Homo sapiens: one gene and its partners. The protein of the gene in region 2 purifies or fractionates together with the protein of the main gene of each other region. This does not show direct contact. Each region holds a gene or a part of one and is shown on either strand. Other genes may lie near its edges.

What was found.
Region 1: the proteins of MYEF2 (region 2) and NSUN4 purify together in Homo sapiens (affinity purification with mass spectrometry; one large-scale study listed by BioGRID and IntAct). This does not show direct contact.
Region 3: the proteins of MYEF2 (region 2) and ERLIN1 purify together in Homo sapiens (affinity purification with mass spectrometry; one large-scale study listed by BioGRID and IntAct). This does not show direct contact.

The regions. Positions count from the first base shown.
Region 1 is NC_000001.11:46,350,680-46,354,333, reverse strand, and holds part of NSUN4 (5-cytosine rRNA methyltransferase NSUN4), read right to left. Parts: intron 1,467-3,654; coding exon 1,306-1,466; intron 1-1,305. UniProt on the Homo sapiens protein: Mitochondrial RNA cytosine C(5)-methyltransferase that methylates cytosine to 5-methylcytosine (m5C) in various RNAs, such as rRNAs, mRNAs and some long non-coding RNAs (lncRNAs).
Region 2 is NC_000015.10:48,150,679-48,154,332, reverse strand, and holds part of MYEF2 (myelin expression factor 2), read left to right. Parts: intron 1-439; coding exon 440-541; exon of another isoform or gene 542-2,026; intron 2,027-2,048; coding exon 2,049-2,099; intron 2,100-2,390; coding exon 2,391-2,459; intron 2,460-2,761; coding exon 2,762-2,860; intron 2,861-3,161; coding exon 3,162-3,233; intron 3,234-3,654. UniProt on the Homo sapiens protein: Transcriptional repressor of the myelin basic protein gene (MBP). Binds to the proximal MB1 element 5'-TTGTCC-3' of the MBP promoter. Its binding to MB1 and function are inhibited by PURA.
Region 3 is NC_000010.11:100,161,953-100,165,606, forward strand, and holds part of ERLIN1 (erlin-1), read right to left. Parts: intron 2,144-3,654; coding exon 2,052-2,143; intron 1-2,051. UniProt on the Homo sapiens protein: Component of the ERLIN1/ERLIN2 complex which mediates the endoplasmic reticulum-associated degradation (ERAD) of inositol 1,4,5-trisphosphate receptors (IP3Rs).

The DNA of each region.
Region 1 (3,654 bases), on a different chromosome or scaffold from region 2:
CAAGCCCAGGAGTTCGAGGCCAGCCTGGGCAACATAGTGAGACCCCGTCTCTACAAAAAATCATTTGCTGGGCATGGTGGCACACTCTAGTCCCAGCTACTCGGGAAACTGAGGCAGGAGGACCCCTTGAGCCCAGGAGGTTGAGGCTGCAGTGAGCCGTGTTCACACCACTGTACTCCAGCCTGGGTGACAAAGTGAAAACCTGCCACTCAAAAAAAAAAAACTTTAAAAAAATTAATATGGAGATTTTCAACATGATTAATAAGAGATTGTAAATTAGATACTATCCATTTGGCAAAAAAATTAAGTTTGATAGCACCAATATTGGCAGCATGTGGGAAATCAGTACTCATTCATTACCAGTAGGAGTGAAACTGGTTTAACCTCCACAGAGAAATTTAGCAATCGCTATCAAAATCTTAAATGGATGTAAACTGTTATTCAACAACTATACTTCCACAATGTCAACAAAATTAAAAAAGGATTTAACCCCAGGACACATTATTAAATAAAAAAATACAAAGTTCAGAATAGTGAGTATAATATAATATACTACCGGCTGGGCGCAGTGGCTCACGCCTGTAATCCTAGCACTTTGGGAGGCCGAGGCGGGTGGATCACGAGGTCAGGAGGTCAAGACCAGCCTGGCCAAGATGGTGAAGCCCCGTCTCTACTAAAAAAAATACAAAAATTAGCCGGGCGTGGTGGTGGGCGCTTGTAATCCCAGCTACTCGGGAGGCTGAGGCAGAGAATTGCTTGAACCCAGGAGGCGGAGGCTGCAGTGAGCAGAGATCGCGCCATTGCACTCCAGCCTGGGCAACAAAAGCGAAACTCCGTCTCAAAAAAAAAAAAGAAACAATCGTTATCTATAGGGTGGGGAAGTAGGGGGCTACAGGCCAGATGAGAAAAACTCACTTTTCATTGGATACTCTTTTGTGCCTTCTGAATTTTGTACCATGTGCTGTACTAACATTCAAAAATAAATAAATGAGCTTATTCTTACTTACCTTCATGAGGCTTTCTGAGCAACCAAGTGACTTGAGAAATAAAGTAAGCCTAGTAAATTTTTCCCCTACTCAAATAGTTTCAAATTCTTTTTTGCTGCCAACTATCTTTAATAGAGATAATAACCAGTCATCTAAGCTGATTTTTCTTTTGGTCAAATCACCAATGTAGAACTGGCCAGTCCAGAAACAGCTCTACATGCTCAAACATAGGGGCTGGATCCTAACCCCTCAGGCCCTAGAACCAGGATGGGGAGGCCGCATTAAGCTGGATGCATGTCCTAAATCAAGAATCACTCACCCGGTCATAGGTGTCCCCCTCCAGTTCTCCCCATTTCCTGCCATCCCATGAGGTAACTCGAACTTGATTTCCATCCCTGATCTCTTCAGGCACATAGCTGTGAAGGATCTTCTGTAGTCTGGCTATTCGGGACGGGGAGAGATCATTGGCAGCAAGATTGCCTATGGAAATAAAGATACTTCAGAGGCCATGACCCAATGAAACATTCCACCAGCAATGGCGCTGATGGAGTCAGACCAATTCTCAGGTAGTCCCAGCCAATGCAAACCCCAGCATCAGGAACATTTATTATGTGCATGGCACAGCATCAGTCATTCTGAGTGGGGGTACAATGGCAAACACCTAAATGGGCCAGAAAGTATCAAAGTTATTTAAGTCAATGAATAAAGCAGACCAAGTAAGACTCCTTTCCTTTCTCCTTTCCTGTCCTCTCTCCCCTTTCTCCCCTTTCTTTCCCCTTTCCCCTTTTCCTTTCCCCATTACTTTCGCCTTTCTTCTCTCCTTTCCCTCTCCCCTTTCCTCCCTTTCCTTTCTCTCCTTTTCTTTCTCTCCCTCTCTTTCCTTTTGTTTTTTTTTTAAGACAGAGTCTCATTCTGTCGCCCAGGCTGGAGTTCAGTGGCACACTCTCAGCTCACTGCAACCTCCACCTCCTGGGTTCAAGTGATTATCATGCCTTAGCCTCCTGAGTAGCTGGGACTATGGGTGTGCACCACTATACCCGGCTAATTTTTGCATTTTTAGTAGAGACAGCATTTCACCATGTTGGCCAGGCTGGTCTTGAACTCCTGACCTCAGGTGATCCCGCCTGCCTTGGCCTCCCAAAGTGCTAGGATTACAGGTGTGAGCCACTGCACCCAGCCACATTCTTTTTTTTTTTTTTTAAAGACAGGGTCTCTGAGTCTGGGCATAGTGGCTCACGCCTCTCATCCCAGCACTTTGGGAGGACGCCAAAGTAGGTGGATTGCTTCAGCCCAGGAGTTCAAGACCAGCCTGGGCAACATAGCGATACCTCATTTCTACAAAAATAAAAATATATTTAAATAATTTTTTAAAAAGAGACTGGAAGGCCAGGCACGGTGGCTCACACCTGTAATCCCAGCACTTTGGGAGGACAAGGCAGGCGGATCACAAGGTCAGGAGATCGAGACCATCCTGGCTAACATGGTGAAACCCCGTCTCTACTAAAAATACAAAAAATTAGCCGGGCATGGGGGTGGGTACCTGTAGTCCCAGCTACTCGGGAGGCTGAGGCAGGGGAAAGGCGTGAACCCGGGAGGCAGAGCTTGCAGTGAGCCGAGATGGCGCCACTGCATTCCAGCCTGGGCGACAGAGCAAGGCTCCATCTCAAAAAAAAAAAAAAAAAAAAAAAGAGACTGGGTCTCACTATGTTGCCCAGGTAGGTCTTGAATTCCTGGCCTCAAGCAATTCTCCCACCTCAGCCTCCCAAAGTGCTGGGATGATGGGTGTGGGCCACCATGCCCAGCCAAGAATATTTATTTCTAAAAAAATATGCTCTCCCACTATTCTGGAAACCTATGGCTCTCTTCATCTTTGGTAGATACTACAGTTTATTTAGCCAAAATCATTCTCCTCTTCCTCCTTATTAATAGAACCCCAATTTTTTGGAAGGGGAAAATTGCCCCAAAAGACTACATTTCTCAACCTTTCTTTAGTTTCGCTCTTGTTGCCCAGGCTAGAGTGCAATGGCGCGATCTCGGCTTACCATAACCTCCGCCTCCCGGGTTCAAGCGATTCTCCTGCCTCAGCCTCCCGAGTAGCTGGGATTACAGGCATGCGCCACCACGCCGGCAAATTTTGTATTTTTAGTAGAGACGGGGTTTCTCCATGTTGGTCAGGCTGGTCTTGAACTCCCGACCTCAGGTGATCTGCCTGCGTCGGCCTCCCAAAGTGCTGGGATTACAGGTGTGAGCCACCACACCCGGCTAAGCCTTTCTTTTACAACTAAGTATGACTATATGACTAACTTTTGGTCATAGTTGTAGGCATAAGTATTGGATAGGAATTCTGGGAAGATATTTTTAAAAGGCTGACATAATTGGGAGATGAAATGAGTCTCTTTTGCCCAATCCTTTCCTCTTGACTCAAATATGGATGTGATGGCTGGACTTCCAGCAGTCATTCTGGACCATGAGGCCTTGCCTTAGAGCTTTACTAGTTACATATCTTCTCCCTCTTAAAGGGAGGGAGGCTAAGGCTGACACTAGCAACAAAATACGTTGCAAAAGGAAAAAGGGAGCTTAAGTCCCTGATAATTGTGGAGCCTCCATACCTGGAGTGCCTATATCTCAGCTTCTCTTATGTAAGAGATAAATTAATGTTTCCTCTTTA
Region 2 (3,654 bases):
TGTTATACTTTCATGGTTATTGACTTTTTAGTTTGATTTGAACCATTTAAAAAGTAATTATCAAATTTTAAGTGGGTCTACAAATTTGGGCAAGATACTCATTTTCAGATATGTGTGCCATATATAAGGTGATATGATATTATTCAAAATCCTCTAGGTATTTTATTATTCCTCTCAGTGTACCTTTAAGTGGGGTATAAGGTGTACTTTGTATTATATCATGTTTTATTTCATAAAACACTTCTCATTAATAAATGGTTTTATAGTCGGGCTTCAGTGTGCTACTTTCTAGACAAAAACAAGAACCAGTGCTTTTATATGAAAATTTGCAGAAATTTTACAGATACTACTACAGGTATATAGCTTTTTAAAAAATTTTATTGCCAATTAGTTAATCATATATGGATCTTTGTAATGATTGTTCTCATTTTTGTTTTAGGTGGTCTTGGAGGCATTGGGATGGGACTTGGTCCGGGTGGACAGCCTATTAGTGCCAGCCAGTTGAACATAGGTGGAGTAATGGGAAATTTAGGTCCAGGTGGTGAGTATTCTAACTTCCTCTTTTCTTTTTAAATGATACATATGCTAGCTAATAAAGCCTCCATTGATGTGGTCTGTAATAATGTTTAAAGGACTCTAATTAATAGTTAGATATTTACGGTGTCACTTCATTCTGAAAAAGGAATGAAACCTTGAGCACAGCTAACATGAAAGAGATAGGCAGAAGTCAGGAGGGTTTCTTTGGGGCCAGCTATGTTGTAGCTAGCCTTTTAGCATTTTGGATTTTGAAATGTCTTGAAGGCAGAAGGAGAATATATCATCTATGAACAGTATTTATGGAGTAGCTGAAATGCTACCATATCATAGGCAGCTAAAATCTGTTTATCCATTTGGGAAGGTGGCTTTTCAGGTAGTTATTTGGCTGCTCACCTGGAAGAACTCACAGTTCATTTTTAGAGATTGGTTTTTAAACTTTGGTGTTAGGACCCTTTTATATTTTAAAATTTGTTGAGAACCCGAAAATGCTTTGTTTATGTAGTTATAATTACCAGTATTTACTGTATTATAAATGAAAAATTAGAAATTAAAAAAATTACATATTAAAAAATGATAAACTCATTACATGTTAACATACATAAAAGTTTTAAGAAAATAAACTATTTTTCAATGCAAAAAAGAAATTGGTGAGGAGAGTGGCATTGTTTTACCTTTCCACACATCTTTTTAATGTTTGGCTTAATATTGCTGTTATATCTGTTTCTGCACTTTAGTTTTTTGTGATATTGTACATCATATAGTGTTTGGAAAATTACACCTTAAACTCAAGAGAATGAGGGTAAAACATCAAATAATGTCTTAGTAGTATTTGGTGACTTAAATAGTTTTGACCTATTGAACCCTCAAGAGTCCCTGGACCATACTTTGTGAATTACTGTTTTAATTGATGGACTAATAAATGCTATCAGATTCCTATTTTGTCAAGATGCTGTAGTCACACTTTAAATTATGAGGCTCATTATCATAATCATTCTGATCCAAACAAGTTTTCTCCCTTACCCTTAGACTCTCACACCTACCTACCCTCTCCTAAATACATACTATTTATATTTTGAAAATTTTTACTGCTCTTTTAACTGCGATGTTTAGAGAGTCCTTACATTCTGGCCTGATCTCTAAATCTGCTGTAATGCTATTTCTGTGTCTATGCTGGAAAAAAAAAATCATTGATAGTAGTATTTCTGTGTTTATTGTGGAAAAAAAAGTGAATGATTACCTAGTTCAAGATATTCTCTAACTGAATGTTGTGGGTGTTACTAGTGAATTTTGCTTTCTTGTCTGATAAATGTTCAAAGAAACCCTTTTGAAGATTCATGATTAGACAGCTGCTATGGCATAGCACTTTAAACCATGCCTCCTGTACCCTACCGCTTCTCTAGTGTTTCATTGTGGTTATACCAGTGGTATCTATTTTGCTATAATGCATTATATCATCTTTTAGTCATAAAAATAAAATATACTTAAAGTACATACTGTGTATTTTATTTGAGGTATGGGAATGGATGGTCCAGGTTTTGGAGGAATGAATAGAATTGGAGGAGGTATGTATAAAGATTTGTTTTTTTGTATGTACCCATCACCATTTTTAATAAACTAGAAACTGTGTTGAGAATTCCATGAAAAAAAAGTCATGGTTTATTGTTGGCTCATGTTCTAAAGGCTGCTAGCAGAAATTGAGCCTGGTACATACTTAAAGGAAGGTGATGTGTTAAGAAGTAGCTGCACAAGGTAGGGTGGATGAAGAGCTTACTGGTGAGATTTAACATTTACAAAACGTACCTTTCAGCTACATGACTGACAGTTGGATCTCAAAATTAATCTTTATTCCATAGGAATAGGGTTTGGTGGTCTGGAAGCAATGAATAGCATGGGAGGATTTGGAGGAGTTGGCCGAATGGGAGGTAGGTAAATGTATGCAGTGGGAAGTGTGTGCATATTTAGTTTTCCCTATTATTAATATTTCCCCCCTATAACTTAGGAATGTGTGCTAAAAATGTCTTCAGAAGGCATATAGGCACTAGGGGATAAGGACAGGCCTGGGGAATGGGGATGATATGTGTGGCATGTGAGGTAAATTGGGTAAATGACAGACTATTTTATATTTGTGACTTACGCGTCTTTTCATAATTTAGATACATTCCTGAATGTTTTCAACATGTATTGATATATTTGAAAAGGTTAATTTGTTGCACAATTTTTTCAGAGCTGTACCGTGGTGCGATGACTAGTAGCATGGAGCGAGATTTTGGACGTGGTGATATTGGAATAAATCGAGGCTTTGGAGATTCCTTTGGTAGACTTGGTAGGGCTGGCTGCATACTTCTCCTTTTCTTTTTGTAGGCTATAATTTTTGAAATTTGGTTTCTCTTTTTTTGTGAAAAATCAGAAAATCATAATGTTTTATACAACTTATTACCTGAAGAAAACACTTTAAGGATTTTAATATGCTAGCTCTCTTTTTCAACATCTTACATATTTGAACTCTATTTTCAGAAGACTTTATGCTTTTCATTTATTGTAAATCAGAGCACATAGTACCTTGGGAATTTTAAAGTATGATTATTTAAAATTAATTAGTATATTATCTTTCCATCCTTGTTTAGGCAGTGCAATGATTGGAGGGTTTGCAGGAAGAATAGGATCTTCTAACATGGGTCCAGTAGGATCTGGAATAAGTAGGTTTAAATTTTACTAGAATTTATTCAGTAATATTTGAGTGCTTGCAAAGACTTTGCAAGAGTAGTTATCGTAGTATAGTAATACTTTGTTCTTATACGTTAATGTGTCTTGCTATAATTTGAGAAACCTTGATAATTGAGCAAAGCCTTTCTGTTTGATTATTGTTTGAAATTTCTAAATTAACTGTTTGAATTTTACTTTTTTGATATTTCTAAACTATGTGTTAACAGCCAATCCAGGAACCTTCTTTCCAACTAAGGAATCTGGGGATTTCTCTGATCATGTTTCAGGAGCAACTTTTGCTTTAGCACCAACTTTGTTTCCTTGCTTATTTTCTATAATAGCTATTAGTGACTAGCTTATTTTATTTGTAAACATCTATGTCTTTTGGTAAATGCAGATATAGCACTCTTAGGC
Region 3 (3,654 bases), on a different chromosome or scaffold from region 2:
CAAAACTTTAAAACTTTTAGAATAAAAGTCTTACTTTGGACTAGGGAAAGAATTCTTAAGATAGGAAAAGCACAAAACATAAAGGAAAAGACTAATGAATTTGTCTACACAAAAACTACACATATATGTATATCGAAGACATTGTAAAGTTCAAAGACAAGCCACAAATTGAAAGATGTTGGAAATGCATAAATCTGAAAAAGGATCAGTATCCAGGAGACAGAAAGGACTCTTACAAATCAACTCAAAAAAGCAATCAAATAATGGGCTAAGGACATTAACAGGCAATTCATATAACAACAACAAAAAAGGAAACTTGAATGACCAATAAGCAATATTCAACTTTACTAACAATCAGGGAAATTCAAATTGAAATTATGTGATACCATGTCTTCCATTAAACAGACATAAAGTTTTAAGTCTGATAACTCCAAGGACCAAGAAGGATGTGTGGAAATGGGAATTCAAATATGGCAGCATAGAAACTGGATATCAAATATTGTTGAAGAGATGGTAAAATCAAAGAAGTACTTGAGAGAGCAATTTGTCAATATGTTGAATGTGAAGACATGCTACCCTATGACCCATCAATTCTACTTTGAGATAGCTATTCTAGAGCAGTGCTTCTCAAACCACCTGTGGAAAAATACCTTACCTTTTTGTGTGTGTATTTCAATTTATGAGGAACCAATAAATTGTAAACTATAACAAAAACAAATTACAGTACTAGAAAAAAGAAATTAAAAAACAAAAACATAAATATATAAGCTCTGATTTTTTATTTTTGATTCAACAGACATAAAACTGCTGTATTAAAATGCTATAAAAACTTCTAAACACTCATTCTCAATTTCTATACTCATCTCATTGAGGCTCAGAAACAAAAAGCTGGTGATAGGGCACTGGCCCACACCATACACTGAGTAATGCTACTCTATGGAAACCTGCACATGTACACTGTATCCAGGAGGCACTGGATAAGAATGTTATTGTGGCAGTGTTTGTAATAAGGAAAAACTAGAAACTACCTAACTCCTCATTGGTAATTCATTACAATAAAACTAGGCCCGCTCATAGAACGAAAAATGTAGCAGCTAAACATAAACGATCTACCATCTCACAGAGAATAAGGATAAAATGCCAAAAAAAGAAAAAATCCCTAGATCTACATGTATCAATATGAATAAAACTCAATGTTAGTGAAAATAAGGCAAGTTGTAAAATAAGAGTTTGGTAACATTTTTGTAGTTTCAAACAGGTAAAACAATTTTATAAACTCTTACACACTTACAGTAAAAGTATAAAAATATGGACAGAAAGGATATACATCAACTTCAGAATAGAAGTTAATCTGAGAAGAAAAGTCAAAGAGTAGGACCAGTGAACATACAAAGGAGGCTTCAAACAGATATTTAATTTTTTTCTTAAAAAAAAAAAAAAAGATCTGAAGGGAATAAGGCAAAATCTTAAGCTTTCATTATATTGTTCTCTGTACATTCCTCTATAATTGAATTATTTAATTAAAGATGTATTAAACTTTCAGCATCAACCGAGGGCCAAAGAGGGCAATCTAATACACAGTGACCTGGAGTATAAGGGAAGCCACTGTAATCTGAAATGAACTGTAAACAATCCTGCCATGCTTTCATAAACGGCACTACCTATCCAGGTAAAACTAAGTGCATGTCAACAACAAGGATGCATACTACAATCTGAAACTTTGGTCAAAAAACTTCCCTATTCTTAATCTGTACAAATGAAAATGCTATCCACAGACTCAAGCTGCCTATAAACCCTATCCATTCTCCCTGTTCTTGAAAGAGACAACAGTAGCATCTAACAACATGATGGACAGCCACAGCACATCATTAAGTACTGGTCTCACCTACTTTTAAAGGCTTTAGAACATCTGAATGTACAGTGGAGATTCCAGAATTCCCCACTACCTATGATGCAATCTTACTGAGTCCCATGATACCCAAAATGAGACTGACAAAGAACAGGACAAACAAATGTACTTAGAGACAATCATTTCAGAGAAATCCAAGTACCTATAACTGCCTTTTTCCTCTCTGTCTCAGCTTCTTTTTCCACAACCTTTTGTTTCTGTGCAGCTATAAGGAGTTTTGTCTTCTCAGCCTCCCTGTGAAGCAAAATGTTATAAAAATTAGAAATGATTCTCCTATGTGCAGTCACAGCCAGTAATTCTGACCCTACAGTGAGTCAGAGAACCGTTTTGTCAACATGAGCTTTTGGACCCATTAAGGTAGGTTAAGAGAGGTGTTACTTTATTTTACTTATAATAAATCTGAGGTTGAAAGATTCAATGATTTGCCCAAAGTCACCCAGAGATAGGAAAAAAATTTAGTACATTTGAATTTTAGTTTGGCTTTCTTCTCCTAGTTGTATTGTGTAAAGCCTGTGATTTGGAAGGGAATATATCAATACTTCCTTTGCTGTTAGACCTCCAGCTAGTCCATACAGCAGCTCTGTGCCAATTAGAAAACGGCACCAGCCGTTTCTACAGTCCTGCAGGTGCATGGTTTGACATGCAGAATGAAGCTGGGTTTCAGCCCCTGCCCTCCTCAGGTGGGCACCCATGTGCAGTGACCATATTTGTTGCACAGAAGATATAACTAGGTGGTAGTTATTAGGTAGTAAACTGGGGCTTACAGTAAGGAGAATTTTCTAAGGCTTCCAGTGTCTAATACAGGTTGAGCATTTCTGATCTGAAAATTTGAAATCCAAAATGCTCCAAAATCTGAAACTTTTTGAGAGCCCACATTATGACACAAGTGGAAAATTCCACACATAAGCACTTAAGGTAAACTTTGTTTCATGCACAAAATTATTTAAAATATTTTATAAAGTTACCTTCAGGCTATAGGTGTATATGGGACATAAATAAAATACCTTAAAAAAAAAAAACTAACCACTATACCAACAAGGAAGAACATAAATAAATTTTATATTTAGACCTGGGTCCCATCCCTGAGATATCTCATTATGTCTATGCAAATATTCCAGAATCTTTACAAATCCAAAATTTAAAATACTTCTGGTCCCAAGCATTTCGGATAAGGGGTACTAAACCTGTAATGGAAATGGCTGGCATATTACTAAGCATGTACAAGTAGCTACTGGGTAACCACGTGGCAGAAATGGTATAAGAAAACACTACTATCAGGTGCAAGGTTATACTGGATCATCCCAAGGTAGCTTTTAATTCTGGAATTCCAATAGTCCATAAAATTAAGAAAGATCCAGAATCATCTGAAAAGTAACTCCAATAGTTTCCCCAAAACACTTCCCCTCAAAGTTTCCCCTTTCCTCTGATAACATTGATAAAGACATCAAATGACAGTCTGAATACTATGATTTATTTGAGAGCAGAAAACACACAATATTCATTTTTCCGTCACCAGAAGCAATCTTTTTTTTTTTTTTTTTTTGAGATGGAGTCTCACTCTGTCACCCAGGCTGGAGTGCAGTGGCACTATCTCGACTCACTGCAAGCTTCGCCTCCTGAGTTCACGCCATTCTCCTGCCTCAGCCTCCCGAGTAGCTGGGACTACAGGCGCCCACCACCATGCCTGGCTAATTTTTTGTATTTTTAGTAGAGACGGGGTTTCATTGTGTTAGCTAGGATGGTCT